Homo sapiens: one gene and its partners. Changing the gene in region 1 together with any one later gene gives a genetic interaction. Each region holds a gene or a part of one and is shown in the gene's direction. Other genes may lie near its edges.

The links.
Region 2: changes in RPS19 (region 1) and RABGGTB are lethal when combined (synthetic lethality), as found in Homo sapiens cells (one large-scale study listed by BioGRID).
Region 3: changes in RPS19 (region 1) and RIT1 together harm fitness more than expected from each alone (negative genetic interaction), as found in Homo sapiens cells (one large-scale study listed by BioGRID).
Region 4: changes in RPS19 (region 1) and KRAS impair growth when combined (synthetic growth defect), as found in Homo sapiens cells (2 studies listed by BioGRID, with this or other methods).

The regions. Positions count from the first base shown.
Region 1 is NC_000019.10:41,862,530-41,867,486, forward strand, and holds part of RPS19 (small ribosomal subunit protein eS19), read left to right. Parts: intron 1-4,957. UniProt on the Homo sapiens protein: Component of the small ribosomal subunit. The ribosome is a large ribonucleoprotein complex responsible for the synthesis of proteins in the cell. Required for pre-rRNA processing and maturation of 40S ribosomal subunits.
Region 2 is NC_000001.11:75,789,256-75,792,420, forward strand, and holds part of RABGGTB (geranylgeranyl transferase type-2 subunit beta), read left to right. Parts: coding exon 1-101; intron 102-221; exon of another isoform or gene 222-292; intron 293-696; coding exon 697-802; intron 803-896; exon of another isoform or gene 897-1,019; intron 1,020-1,190; exon of another isoform or gene 1,191-1,262; intron 1,263-2,029; coding exon 2,030-2,082; intron 2,083-2,205; coding exon 2,206-2,316; intron 2,317-2,925; coding exon 2,926-3,051; intron 3,052-3,165. UniProt on the Homo sapiens protein: Catalyzes the transfer of a geranylgeranyl moiety from geranylgeranyl diphosphate to both cysteines of Rab proteins with the C-terminal sequence -XXCC, -XCXC and -CCXX, such as RAB1A, RAB3A, RAB5A and RAB7A.
Region 3 is NC_000001.11:155,897,308-155,901,349, reverse strand, and holds the end of RIT1 (GTP-binding protein Rit1), read left to right. Parts: intron 1-731; coding exon 732-962; 3' UTR 963-3,542; downstream 3,543-4,042.
Region 4 is NC_000012.12:25,223,430-25,226,929, reverse strand, and holds part of KRAS (GTPase KRas), read left to right. Parts: intron 1-1,156; coding exon 1,157-1,316; intron 1,317-3,500. UniProt on the Homo sapiens protein: Ras proteins bind GDP/GTP and possess intrinsic GTPase activity. Plays an important role in the regulation of cell proliferation.

The DNA.
Region 1 (4,957 bases):
TCAGAGCAGCTTTGGATCTGGGATTAGCCTTTCTCATTTGCTGGGGTGAAGACACGTTCTGCACATACCAAATACCTCCAAAGTAGGACTGTATGTGTCTTGTACATTTTTTTTTTTTTTTTTAACATGGGGAGGGATTAACAAGAGATGGCATTAAGACCTTGGATAATAAACCTAGTTGCATCTGCTGGTCATGGTAGAGCTGCTGTGGTCCCTTGCAGCCCACAGTGGCCCTGCCTGGAAACCTCAAGCAGGATGTGCATCTTCTGCCTGCCTACTGATCTCCATCACTTGGAGTACCCCAAAGGCCTCTTTTTCACCTCACTTGCCCAGCTGTCCTAGCGGCATAGGATGGTTGTGTGGTAGACCAGAGGCCTGTTGTGTATATTTTTGTTGGGTTATAGCCACCCCTGTGTATCTACATGCACAAGGGCAGAGTTGTAGTTGTGGCAGAAGCTGTAGCCTACAAAGCCTGAAATATTTCCTACCTGACCCTTTATTATTTATTTTCAGGGACAGGGTCTAGGCCTGTCACCCAGGTTGGAGTGCAGTGGCACAATTATAGCTCACTGCAGCTTCTTGGGCTCAAGTGATCCTCCTGCCCCACCCTCCTAAGTAGCTGGGACTACAGGTGCCTATCAGTCACCATGCCTAGCTAATTTTTTTTATTTGTAGAGATGGAGTCTCACTATGTTGAACTCCCAAGCTCAAGCGGTCCTCCCGCCTCAGCCTTCCAAAGCACTGGGATTACAGGCAAAGTTGACCAGCCTCTATTCTAGAGTTTAACATGTTCCACCCAGTTTGGCAGTCAGCTTATACTGATCATGGGAGTGATCTTGTTTTACCAAAGAGGAAGCTGTGGTGCAGACGGGCGAAGGGACTTGCTGCAAGTTACCCTGGGAGGGCTTGGCAGGGTGGCTCTGTCCAAAACTAGGTTCCCTGCTATATTCCCTTTTTTCTACTCATAAGAGTCTGGCCTATTTTGCCTCCTCAGATTTGAGGCTAAAGTGTGCTAAAGCAGCGCCCTTGCTGAGCAGGGCCAAATTGTGGAGACCTATAGGAATGAGTGTGAGGTAGACAGGTCTTAATCCTGGGGTTTGGGGGTAAAGAGGCCCATGGTAGAAGATGGGGCCCTCTTGAGGGTGGTCTGGAAATGGAGCAGAGCTGTAGGAGTAAGCAGTCCCAAGGCAGTGGTGTAGGAGGCAGGGCAAGGTAGAGGAAGAACCCGCAAAGACTTGCTCTCACTGGACGTTCAAGGGATGGCCGCCATGGGTCTTTATGAAGGGGGTGGTGCAGTGTAGCCCCGGACAGGCTTTTTTTTTTTTTTTTTTTTTTAAACAGAGTTGCACTGTCACCAGGCTGGAGTACACTGGTGCCGTCTCGGCTAACTGCAACCTCTGCCTGCCGGGTTCAAGCAATTCTCCTACCTCAGCCTCCCAAGTACCTGGGACTACAGGTGCCCGCCACCACGCCCAGCTAATTTTTCTATTTTTAGTAGAGACGGGTTTTCACCATGTTGGCTGGGATGCTCTCGATCTCTTGACCTCGTGATCCGCCCGCCTCGGCCTCCCAAAGTGCTGGGATTACAGGCATGAGCTCCCGCACCCAGCTGGACAAGCCTCTTGCTGTCTTAATTCTTTAAAGGACCTGCTGAAGATGGAGATGTGGGAGTCCAGTTTGGTGTCCTGGTGTGCGTCTGAGAGCAGCTGCTGAATTGGGATGTCTGGAAACACTTCTTGTAGGTTGGAGGCTGCTCCATCTCTGGCTCCTGCATGGGGCTGGGCACCCACTTGTGCTATGATAGTAGAAAGAATGAGATCTGGGAGGCATCACAGAAGTGAGTTAAGGGATGAATCAAGGTCAGGAGAGTGGTTTCTTACAAGTTCGGCAGAGAAGGGTCAGCTAGAGTGTGCTGGGGAAGTTCTTCCCTGCCTTTGACTCAGTAGGTCAGGATGGGACCACCGGTCTGGACTTTGCTGAGCTGTGATGACTCCTAAGGAGCCGTGCTTGGTTGGTCTGCCCCGTGCTCAGATCCAGAGGGACCCTCCCTCTCGGTCTAGCAGGAACACAGCTGCCCTCCCTTGACCATGAACTCACAGTAGAGTGGAGAGGGGTGGCCTCCTTTACAGTTCCAGGTAGGGGGTGATTCCTGGACAGGGGTTCCTGAGAGGAGTGGGTTGCCATCCCAAGAATGCACACAGCAGAGGAGCAGAAGGCCTCTAGCATGGAGGAACTGGAGGAGAACCCATTTGTGACAGCAACTTGCTCGCAATTGGCCCTCATGAGTACCAGCTACGGCGGTCTGCATTTGTGCAGCTCCACATCAAAAGCTGGGGCTGGAACCTTGGTCTCCAGGGGGTGAGGAAAAAGGTCAGTGTTTTAATAGAACGCGGTATTTCAACTCTTAGCATTTTCCAATTTGTGAAGTTAATAACCCTTCCTCTCCCTTCTAGTGGGTCAGAAAAAAATAATTAGCATGAACTGGGATAGCAAGGGAGGAGCTTGTAATATCTGACCAAGGTTCTCCATGCCAAAAGGTTTTTATACAGCCTTAAGAAAAATTTAAGCCTCCATTGAAGAACCTAATAGGCCTTTGGGAGGCCAAGGCAGGCGGATCACCTGAGGTCAAGAGTTTGAGACCATCCTGACCAATGTGGTGAAACCCCGTCTCTACTAAAAATAAAAATTAGCCAGGCGTGGTAGCAGGCGCCTGTAGTCCCAGCTACTGGGGAGGCTGAGACAGAAGAATTGCTTGAACCCCGGAGGCAGAGGTTGCAGTGAGTCTGAGATCACGCCACTGCACTCCAGCCTGGGCAACAGAGTGAGACTGTCTCAAAAAAAAAAAAAAAGCACCTAATAGGCCTTATGGGAGCTTGTTCTCTACCAGTCACTGTGCTCAAGGTTTAAGTAAAGTGTCTCCTTTAGTACCGCAGCACAAACCACCTGGAGGATAGGTGGGTCCTGTGTCCCTCCTGAGGAGGAACGGTGTCAGGATTCAAGCTCCTGTCTGACTGCTCTGGGCGCTAGTCCCAACCCAACAAGACTGAGGTTGAGTGTCCCATTTCTGGTGTACAGCCGCTTTGGGCATCTCTGCGCTTAGGAGTGTGTGCCTTATTCTTAAAAAGCAAGATAACAGAGGCCCGGCGCGGTGGCTCACACCTGTAATCCCAGCACTTTCGGAGGCCGAGGCGGGCGGATCATGAGGTCAAGAGATCGAGACCATCCTGGCTAACATGGTGAAACCCCATGTCTACTAAAAATACGAAAAAATTAGCCGGGCGTGGTGGCGGGCGCCTGTAGTCCCAGTTACTGTAGAGGCTGAGGCAGGAGAATAGCATGAACCCGGGAGGCGGAGCTTGCAGTGAGCTGAGATCACGCCACTGCACTCCAGCCTGGGCGACAGAGTGAGACTCCGTCTTTAAAAAAAAAAAAAAAAAAAAAAGGCCGGGCGCGGTGGCTCATGCCTGTAATCCCAGCACTTTGGGAGGCCGAGGCGGGCGGATCAGGAGGTCAGGAGTTTGAGACCAGCCTGGCCAGCATGGTGAAACCCCATCTCTACTAAAAATACAAAACATTAGCCAGGTGTGGTGGCGTGTGCCTGTAGTCCCAGCTACTCGGGAGGCTGAGACAGGAGAATTGCTTGAACCTGGGAGGCGGAGCTAGCAGTGAGCCCAGATGGCACCACTGCACTCCAACCTAGGCAACAGAGAAAGACTCCGTCTCAAAAAAAAAATAAAGCAGGATAACAGGAAAAGCTATTCTGCGTTCCCCAGTCCTGGGTACTGTAGTTCAAATGGGAGAGCAGGTCTCCACCCAGAGCCCCAGGGCACAACCAGCTACAGGGCCCAGAGGGATGGCAGCAGCTGCTGGGTATTTGAGCTGGTCTGAAAGGGTGGAGGTTTCCAGTGATGTCACTCTCTGGCAGGATTGTGGGGGGTGGCTTACGCCAGGTGAGTCTGTCTATTGGTCCTGGTTATGGGCACTTATTACCAGGCAGTGGCGTAGGGGGTAGGGCCTGGAGTGAGGTGGGGATTTTAAAGTGAGCAGATGCCAGAGGTAGTGAGCCAACAGCAGGGCTGTGCTCTTGGCCCCCAGCAGAGCATGGTTGTATAGTATCAGCTGAGGATTGGTTCCAGGATGAACCCCAATACCCAAGTCCACAGATGCTCACCCTTACTATAAAATGGTGTAATATCGGGGCCAGGGGCCGGGTGCGGTGGCTCAACCCTGTAATCCCAGCACTTTGGGAGGCCAAGGCAGGTGGATTACGAGGTCAGGAGATTGAGACCATCCTCGCTAACACGGTGAAACCCCGTCTCTACTAAAAATACAAAAAAATTAGCCAGGCGTGGTGGCGGGCCCCTGTAGTCCCAGCTACTCTGGAGGCTGAGGCAGGAGAATGGAGTGAACCCGGAAGGCAGAGCTTGCAGTGAACCGAGATTGCGCCACTGCACTCCAGCCTGGGCGACAGAGCGAGAGACTCCATCTCAGAAAAAAAAAATATCGGGGCCAGCACAGTGGCACACACCTGTAATCCCAGCACTTTGGGAGGCCAAGATGGGTGGTTCACTTCACTCCAGGAGTTCAGCCAGAGCAACATGGCAAAACCGGGTCTCTTCAGAAATTATCTGGGCGTGGTGGCTTGCACCTGTAGTCCCAACTATTCAGGAGGTCAAAGCTGCAGTGAGCTGTTACCACTGCACTCCAGCCTGGGTGACAGAATGATGCCCTGTCTCCAAAAAAAAAAAAAAGTATAATATTTGCATATATCCTATGTAGATGTTTTACTTTTGAGACAGAGTCTCACTCTGTCACCCAGTCTGGAGTGCAGTGGCATGATCTTGGCTAACTGCAACCTCTGCCTCCCAGGTTCAAGTGATTCTCCTGCCCTGCCTCAGCCTCCCAGGTAGCTGGGGTTACAGCGGGTGTGCCACCACACCTGGCTAATTTTCTTGTA
Region 2 (3,165 bases), on another chromosome or scaffold:
AGATTCTGGCATTTATTAAGTCTTGCCAACATGAATGTGGTGGAATAAGTGCTAGTATCGGACATGATCCTCATCTTTTATACACTCTTAGTGCTGTCCAGGTAAATACTAATCAAAATTGCAACGATCTTGATAGTATGTTCTCTTACTTCAGAGTTGGAAATTGAAACTGTATCAGGATTTGGTCAAAAAGTTTTGTTACAAGTGAAGCTGTCCTACAAGGTCAATGATGTAATGGCATGTATTAGCTGAATCTAAAGTTGATGTGAGTTCTAAAATTACACTGAGACCTTGGAGGGTAAAATTTTTATCTTCAGTATGTGTAAATACTGTAAAATAGCTAAATGGAGCTATTTGATTTTGATATTAGTGAACATCTACCTGGTGGTTTAAAGTCTTTCTGGTACTACTGGGTGCTGAGATGGGAAGATCAGGACTTTGTGTGGATGTGAGTTAGTATACTTGAGTATCTTGGAATGCCAAGTTAAAATTTATATGTAGAAAATTATACTTTAAAGATTTGAGTTTTCTTGATACTATCTAATTTTATTCAATAACAGGAGAGTCTGCATATTTGAGAAAAGGTTATATACACAGAGACAAAAGGATGTGCTTGACAACTTAAAAAGAGTTGAGCATAAGATCATTAGAATAAACCTGAAAGGGACATTTACCTAATACTTGTCTTTATTGCAGATTCTTACGCTGTATGACAGTATTAATGTTATTGACGTAAATAAAGTTGTGGAATATGTTAAAGGTCTACAGAAAGAAGATGGTTCTTTTGCTGGAGATATTTGGGGTAATGTCAGATTTAGTCCATTCTACCCAAAATACCAATATTAAAATGTACTGGTTTTGCTAGTAACCAGTTTATAAGTTTTTCATCTTTTCAGGTCCCACTAAGCAGCTGGTCTAACTGGAGTTAATGGTCTGCTGGAACTTCCAGCATGCACTGTGGTAGTTATATCAGCATATACAGGAGCACTGGAACAGAGGGGGCCAGTCTAAAAGATAAGGTAGGTGGAATTTTTTTCCCCAATATTTGGTGGCTTTGTAAAGTTTTTTAAAAACTACTTGCTGGAAAGGGAAAAATATTTAAAAAAAAAAACTTTACAAACTTGCTGAATATTTGAGTGGAGGGAGGGAATAGAATTTTATTTGATAAACGTAGATAATCTCTGCTTTAGGGATGAACACAGTGCAGGCCAGAGAGACCAGCTGCTTCATGGGATGTGAAAAATCTACTTTTATAAAGTAGGGTAAGTTTATTTCATTATTAGAAATGGACTAATACTTTGGGTTCTATTAGTTTTCTTCTCTTTGGTTTTCTTCTCTTTCTGGGCTTTCTTTAAGCAGCTTAAGATAATTTGCTGTTACTTTTTTGTGGCAGGGTCTTGGCTCTGTCCAGGTTGGAGTGCAGTATTTTGGGAGACAGTTGCTGGGGCTGGAGAGCTCTGTTGCCCAGGCTGGAGTGCAGTGGTGCAATCTTGGCTCACTGCAACCTCCACCTCCCAAGCTCAAGCAATTCTCCTGCCTCAGCTTACAGAGTAGCTGAGATGTGCACCACAACACCTGGCTGGTTTTTGTGTTTTTAGTAGAGATGGGGTCCCCTGGCCTCATGTGATCCTCCTGCCTCGGCCACCAAAAGTGCTGGGATTTCAGGCCTGAGCCACAATGCCCAGCCCCACCTAATTTTTTTTAAAAAGTTTTTTGTAGAGATGGGGTCCCATTATGTTGCCTCGGCTAGTCTCAAACTCCTAGGCTCAAGTGATTCTCCCACCTCAGCCTCCCAAAATGTTGGAATTATAGGCAAGAGCTACTGTGCCTGGTCAATTTGCTGTTATTTTTGACAAAGGAATTTTCTTGGGAAGTAAAGGCACTTCAGATTTAGCTTTCCTCCTGACTACCCTAAAGTGAAAGTTAAGCTTGAACTCAATTTAAAGTGGTAGTTGTGCAGTGTTTGTTTTTAGATGACTCATGTATGATTTGGTAACACCTGCCTTGATTTGATCTATTTTTATTGTAGGAGAAATTGACACAAGATTCTCTTTTTGTGCGGTGGCAACTTTGGCTTTGTTGGTAAGCTTTGAATATTTGATTGAAATGATTAAAGTTCATGAATACTCTGGAATTTTTTTTTTTTTTGAGTCTGATCTGCTGAATACTCTGGAATTTAACAGGCATCTTTTTTTTTGTTTGTAGGGGAAGCTTGATGCTATTAATGTGGAAAAGGCAATCGAATTTGTTTTATCCTGTATGAACTTTGACGGTGGATTTGGTTGCAGACCAGGTTCTGAATCCCATGCTGGGCAGGTAATTTATGAATACAGATGAAAATGTATTGTCATTTTGGAAGCCAGTGTAGTAAAATAAGAAAATTGGTTATTTCAGTGTTTGTCAAATACACATAAAGTTAATTCGACTGTAATAGGGCATCTTACATAAGAATTGCTTAATTGCTATCATTACTTTGCTTTATATACTATATACCTTTCTCTGTCGGTGGATTCGTCTGACCTAAGCAAACATAAGTGGGTTTATAAGCACCAAAACACTTTTGTTTTCCATTAATTTTTCACTAACCATACAGATAAAAAAAAAAACAACACATTTTTCTTTCTTTCCTAAGATAAATTATGAACCTCTTTTCTTGTGCCAGAGAACACTGAATATGTGAATGGATGGCTGTGAAATACTAGCCATGAAGAAATTTTGACAATAATATTTCAGTGCAGAATTGCATACTAGTAATAGTATGCTTGGATTTTTTCAGATATGTGGTATTAATACATGTTTGGAATTTTAAGTGTCAGATCAAGAAGAAAAACTTAAGATATAAAGTGGTGTTTTAATAATTTGAGTTTTATCACTTTTAATGTCAAGAAATTATTATACACATAAACTTTATGTCTGTAATTTTAGATCTATTGTTGCACAGGATTTCTGGCAATTACAAGTCAGTTGCATCAAGTAAATTCTGATTTACTTGGCTGGTGGCTTTGTGAACGACAATTACCCTCAGGCGGGCTCAATGGAAGGCCGGAGAAGGTATTGTTTGATAAGCCATATTCTGCTAGCTTTAGAACCTTGAGTGAATGCTGCTGCTTTGTCTTGCCTGTTTCTATATTGTAAATTGGCCATGAGCTTATTTATTACCTTTCC
Region 3 (4,042 bases), on another chromosome or scaffold:
TTTTAAAAATTTTGTAAAAGTAGGGTCTCACCATATTGCCCAGCTTGGTCTCAAGTTCCTGGGCTCAAGCAATCCTCCTACCTTAGCCTCCCAAAGTTCTGGAATTACAGGTGTGAGCCACCAAGCCCAGCCTATTTATCTTTCTTAAAATAAAAAGTATGGGGAAAATTAAGATTGTGTATTTGATATCTAAAACTATTCCCTGTTCCAAAAAGTATCTTAAAAATAGACTAGAGACCGGGCACAGTGGCCGACGCCTGTAATCCCAGTACTTTGGGAGGCCGAGGTGGGCAGATCACCTGAGGTCAGGAGTTTACAACCAGCCTGACCAACATGGAGAAACCCCGTCTCTACTAAAAATACAAAATTAGCCAGGTGTGGTGGCGCATGCCTGTAATCTCAGCTACTCAGGAGGCTGAGGCAGGAGAATCACTTGAACCCGGGAGGCCGAGGTTGTGAGCCACAATCATGCCATTGCACTCCAATCTGGGCAACAAGAACGCAACTCTGTCTCAAAAAAAAAAGTAGACTAGAAATAGAATCATATCATTTGAAGGCAGAATAAGAAACCTTAGAAGTAATCTAGCCTAAAATTACAAAAATTAGTGCTGTATGCTTGAACACCTCCAGAATTGAGAAGCTTTCTTTGTGTTAAGGTGGTGGTGCATTCAGGTTTTTGGACAATTTAATTGTTTTTCACTGTTATCTTTTCTCACATTTTGCCCTTAAAGGTCACCAAGGAAGAAGGATTGGCCTTGGCCCGAGAATTCAGCTGTCCCTTTTTTGAGACATCTGCTGCATACCGCTACTATATTGATGATGTTTTCCATGCCCTTGTACGGGAGATACGTAGGAAAGAAAAGGAGGCAGTACTGGCCATGGAGAAAAAATCTAAGCCCAAAAACAGTGTATGGAAGAGGCTAAAATCACCATTCCGGAAGAAGAAAGATTCAGTAACTTGAAGAGAAGATGTGAAGTGTTTATCTGTGAACTGCAGTGCTGTATCAAAGCAGTCCAGTAACCTGCAGTACTGAGTATGGTGCTTGCTCTTTCACTTAACTGATAAGAGGGACATGCCTACTAGGAGTTTTTAATGATGTGGTATTTAAAGTATTGTCTCTTAGTTAAGTATGATTTATTAACCCAGTGGAGCACTGTCTGCTTTTAAATTGTCACATTAGAATTTGTTCTACCAATGTTTTGGGTTCTGTTGCGCTATTAATTAATGTAAATTTGTTTATACCCAGGAGAATATGTATACCATGTGTGTTTGACTAAGTTCACAAGGGAAGTTTTTGGCTCTGCACTCCACATTATCCTTTAATTTCAATTTCCTGGGACTATCCCAGAGAAAGACCTCAGTCTCTTCTATTCACACTATGCTTCCTAGAGACAGAACAAAAATCATGTAGGGAAATTGGGGCTAATGAGATCAGTGCCAAATTTCAGCAGATACCTGTGAGGCTGACACCTGTTGCAGACTATGGAGTGGTGAGATTTGGGAAAGTTGGGCTATATGTTTGCAGGGACTTAAAAAGGTAGGTTCAGAACAGTATTCTCAGTACAAGCTTCGCTTTTCTAAGAAGTACACATTTGGCCCAAATTCACCGGGATAAGTGAGAACAGCCAGAAGCATAAAATGTGATGAAGGTTTCTCCTGGGAACCTTATTTTACTCTTCATTTCAGGGTTTTCTTTTTTTTTTTACCTTCAAAGGTAGACATTTTGGGAATCATAACTGTATTACTAAACGTGTTTAATCAAAATTCATAGTTGGATCAGCCATTGCCTTGTACAGGTTTATTTTTTCCCCACAGACGCACACACCAACACATTTATATTCATTGCTTCCTCCCACTTTGTGCTCTGTAAAAGAGCTACAGCTGGCAAGATGTTTTTTCGGCCCTTCATCACTGATTGCATTTTCCATACAGAAGAGACATCAGGGGTGTGGGTAAAATTGTGTGTGTGCCTCCTTGACGTGGACAATCACTAGACTCAGTGCTCTGAGAAAATCTGCTATTTCTGTTGAATGGGTCAGTCTTAAAGCTTTAAAATTCACATAGGTGGAGTTTCCCATCTGAAGATTTCTTTACAAGGACTTTGCTAAGTTCATCTCAGGGTTATCTGAGCCTTGACCAAGTTTATCCTAAGGGAATACCACTTTGCTCCCTGTGCATAGTTTAGGAACTGTAGTCCTAGGAGGAAACAGCTTTAAATATTGGTAGTGAGTTGTCTAAGATCAGGACTGTTTTGATATCTGACCTTGTTATATGCGGAGAGTAAATGCAAAAATGCTAAGAGTAATGCATCATGTATTGAATATTAAGTGTCACTGAAGCAATGTTTGTGTTGACTAGAAACGTAAGATGACTTGTGTAGCACCTCTTTATAAGCACACAGCTCATCTTAATATTTTCCATTTTTATTAGAGGAAGTAGGACAGAGTTGTGTTTTTCTTTATAAACAAATGATAAACTAGCTTTTTTAAAAAGTGACTGTTAGAACTTTTTTAGCTCTGAGTAGTGGTCCCTTTTTAAACTCCTGGAAACATTTTTGTTACCAAATAAATCATGTTTTATGGTACTCAGCCATCCAAAAGTGAAAGACCTAGCATTTGATTCTGTGCAGGACACAAATCTCACAGGAACTATAGCACTTTGGAAAAGCATCAAAGTAGAAAAGAAATACAGTGCAATTCTATTATGAGAATGTTTTACATTTAAACTGGTTTAGCACCTTTTAAGTTTAAAGCCCATAGCTTCTTATTACTAGTGACCTAGGGAATTGTTATTAACATTAAGAGATATATATATATATATATATATATATTTTTTTTTTTTTTTTTTTTTTTTTTTAAATAGAGATGAGGTTTCACTATGTTGCCCAGGCTGATCTCGAACTCCTAGGCTCAAGCAATCCTCCCAATATGCTGGGATTACAGGCATGAGCCACCACCTGGCCCAAGCAAGAAATTGACACTATATAGTTATTTAAGGTAGTCAGGCAGTAGAAACATTGCCAGAAGGATAGAAAGGAATTTGGATTATATATAAGGAAAATAACAAATCGGTGTTTTTAAGACTATCACTGTCATATATTAGATCCTTGTATTAGTCCATCCATTAATATTAGTTCTATTCGTGGTGCTAGGTAGCTTGACAGGTATGATATGCATAAGTCATAGCTCTATTCTTAGTGTCATAAAGTGTAGCTAATTTATAAGCTCTAAGTAATCAGCTTTATCTAATTTGAGGGCATTAAAATTACTGCCTAGAACTTTGAGAAGAGAAAAATTCAGGGATAAGTTGAAAGGCACTGGAACTGTTCATGTCCATACCAGACCGGTAAATTATAAGATCCAGATGTTAGTGTCTAGAATTAGCTGTTTAGAATTCAGAGGGGACATATGTTTTAACTTTGTCATATATTAGCAAGAATTGGTCTACTGTGATGTTTGGGGAGGAGGAGGGGGGGATAATTTTTTTAATGCACTTGTATGTGAAGACAGTTTGTATGACATAATACAAAACTTTTAAACAACTTGGGCTTTCCTTTGCTTCCCTATCAGTGGGTAGAGTTTTTGGAATCATTGCAAAAGAGTTGTTTTCAGAAAAACATAACCATGAGATGTGATATTCTGGAAAATATGAATTCAAAAAATTTGAGTGCCCACCATGAACAAGACACCCATGTCAAGTGCTAGGGAGCATGCCATGGAATCCCCCTTCATTTGAAGAGATTACCTCTTGGGAGGAGACAGGAAAAACACATATGGAAAATGACAGCACATTTGCTACCTGATCAAGGGTTACTTAAAGTTGTTATAAGTAAATACACTAAATGAAAAGTGAAAGAATGATTTTTTTTTTTTTTTTTTTTTTGAGACAGAATCTCGCTCTGTCGCCCAGGCTGGAGTACAGTGGCGCGATTTCGGCTCACGGCAAGCTCCGCCTCCTGGGTTCACGCCATTCTCCTGCCTCAACCTCCCAAGTAGCTGGGACTACAGGCGCCCGCCACCACACCTGGCTAATTTTTTGTAT
Region 4 (3,500 bases), on another chromosome or scaffold:
TAAAAAAGAAAACCATAAAAAAGAATATGAAAAGATGATTTGAGATGGTGTCACTTTAACAGTCTTAAAAGCAATCGTGTGTATAGCATAGAATTGCTTGGATTGGATAAACAGTGGCATTATATATTTTAAAAAATAAAAGTTTTGAAAGATTGAAGAATTTGGGCATTACAGTTCTCTTAAATCTGACAAAGCTGCATAAAACTATTAAAATAATCATTATTATACTATTTTATATTCTATTTCTTTGAGGGTTTAGTTTTCCAAAAACTACATATTAAGCAAATGAATCACTCAGTGGCTATGTCATATAATAACGAGTTAGCCTAGTTATAAGAAGTTTAACATTTTATTTAAGAACATTGTTACAGCATGTTTACTGTATAGTCTAGTAATAGAGGAAAAGACATTTGGGTGGGTGGTAGTGGTAGTATTTTTATAGAGGAGTTACCAAATTTCAGCTCTATTATCCAAGTTTACCCAGCTAATGGTGTTCGGAACCGGGAATTTGAGCCAATTCTGACTCTGTTGTCTGCTCTGCTCCTTCTTTTGTGCTGTGTCTTTGAAAGTCACCTAAAATTGTGAGGGAATGTAATTTCACCCCAAATTTAGAGTTTATGCACTTGTTATATTGAAAATGATTAACATGTAGAAGGGCTTTTAATGGAATAAGTGGTGTAGTAACTTCAGTGTTGCCTACCTAGAAATCAAAATCTTTCTAGTTGTCCACTTTGTTTTTTGAAAAAGTAATATGAAAATTATGTTAATGCTTTAATTCAGGTTTTTGTAAAATATTTTTTATCTTTACACATTTAACATACGTTTCTAAAATTATAGTCTGTTATATAGCACTTTGGGTCTAGAATTTTTCAGTAGTTTCTGTTTTACTATTATGATCTACCTGCATATTAACCTATTAGGTTATAGTTTTACTATACTTCTAGGTATTTGATCTTTTGAGAGAGATACAAGGTTTCTGTTTAAAAAGGTAAAGAAACAAAATAACTAGTAGAAGAAGGAAGGAAAATTTGGTGTAGTGGAAACTAGGAATTACATTGTTTTCTTTCAGCCAAATTTTATGACAAAAGTTGTGGACAGGTTTTGAAAGATATTTGTGTTACTAATGACTGTGCTATAACTTTTTTTTCTTTCCCAGAGAACAAATTAAAAGAGTTAAGGACTCTGAAGATGTACCTATGGTCCTAGTAGGAAATAAATGTGATTTGCCTTCTAGAACAGTAGACACAAAACAGGCTCAGGACTTAGCAAGAAGTTATGGAATTCCTTTTATTGAAACATCAGCAAAGACAAGACAGGTAAGTAACACTGAAATAAATACAGATCTGTTTTCTGCAAAATCATAACTGTTATGTCATTTAATATATCAGTTTTTCTCTCAATTATGCTATACTAGGAAATAAAACAATATTTAGTAAATGTTTTTGTCTCTTGAGAGGGCATTGCTTCTTAATCCAGTGTCCATGGTACTGCTTTTGGCTTTGGTTTCTTTCTACATTGAAAATTTCTCTTCAATTCTGAGCACATGTTAACATTTAGAATTCAAGAGGTGGGGATTTTTTTTTCCCATGGTTACATATATATATATATATATATATATATATATATATATATATATATATATAAAGAACAGGGCAACAAATTTTTGCGTTTTCTATTTCGGTAGTACTTTTAAACCATTATGTCATGTTTCTAGGTTAAACGTTGTTGTATTTGAAGAATTTTACTTTGGCAGAATTTTTTTGAGGATGTGTTTATTTCTGGAGAAAGGTCTCATTAAAGAAAGACAATACCCAGAAAGCCAACAGAAATTCTGTTACTCATTTAATGCATTTTTCTGACAAAAATTATTGCCAGAGAGAACCTGAATTTTGTTTCAAAAATCATCTTTGTTTTAAAAATGACTTTTTCTTCAGGTAAAATAAAATAATTTCAGTTGCTATTATTTAACCTGTTTGTATGAAGAGTTTAACATATAGGAAATGAATACATAAAGATAGGAAGGAATTAATTGTTATATGTAGTCATATGTCTCTTAATGACAGGGATACTTTCTAAGAAATACATTGTTAGGTGATTTTGTCATTGTGCAAACATCATAGAATATACTTACACAAACCTTGGTAGTATAACCTACTATACACCTGGGATATGTAGTATAGTCTCTTGCCCCAGGGATACAAACCTGTACAGTATGTAACTGTACTAATGACTATAAGGCAATTGTTAACACAATGGTAAGTTTTGTGTGTCTAAACCTACACTTGGGCTACCCTAAGTTTATATATTTTTTTAAATTTCTGTTCAATAATAAATTAACCTTACTTTACTGTAACTTTTTAAACTTTTTAATTTTTCCTAACATTTTGACTTTTGTAATACAGCTTAAAACACACATTATACAGCTATACAAATTTTTCTTTCCTTATATCTTTATTCTGTAAGCTTTTTTCCATATTTAAAATTTTTTGTTTGTTTTTACTTATTAAACTTTTTTGTTAAAAACTAAGACATGCATGCACATTAACCTAGGCCTACACAGGGTCAGGACCATCAATATCATTGTCTTCCACTTCCACATCTTGTCCCACTGGAAGATCTTCAGGGGCAGTAACACACGTGGAGCTGTCATCTCCTATAATAACATTGCCTTCTTTTGGAATACCTCCTGAAGGACCTATCCAAGGCTGTTTATAGTTAACTTTTTTTTTTTTTTTTTTTTTTTTTTAGTAAATAGGAGGAGTACACTATAAAATAACAATATAGGTGCTATACCATTATACAACTGACAGTGCAGTAGGTTTGTTTACACCAGCATCACCACAAACACGTGAGCAATGTGTCGTACTACAGTGTTAGGATGGCTATAACATCACTAAGCAATAGGAACTTTTAAACTCCATTATAATCTTATGGGACCACTATCACATATGCAATCTCCTGTGGACCAAAATGTCATTATGTGGTACATGACTGTACTAAGAAATTGATCCATCTATATTCCATCAATTTGTTTAGGGCTTTTTCTGGTTACATTTACCTGTGAGCCCAGAAAACCAGTTTTGTAGAAATTAACTTCTGTAATGCTAGGAGTTAAAAAAAATTGCTGAACAACTTTTACATTGTTAAACATTTAAAAACAAGCGTTCTAGAAGTTTATCAAATTTCATAAAGGTGCAAAAATGTAAATGTAAATCATTATCCAGCTAATATATATGTTGTATTTCCCTAGTAGGAGAGCATATGTACCTCTTCCTAGTTATACAAATTTGATATATAGTAAAGAAACAGTAAATTCTACTTCAAGTCATTTTGGGAGGATTAAAAACTGAATTTCTCTAGTTTGACCATTGTACAGATTTATCTGGCAATTTTACTAAAACCTGATTTATAGGTTAAACTTGGTGTATATCATATATCACTTTACTTTAGAGGAATTAAGATTTCACATAAATCCATTTCCAGGTTCCAAAGACCAGGAA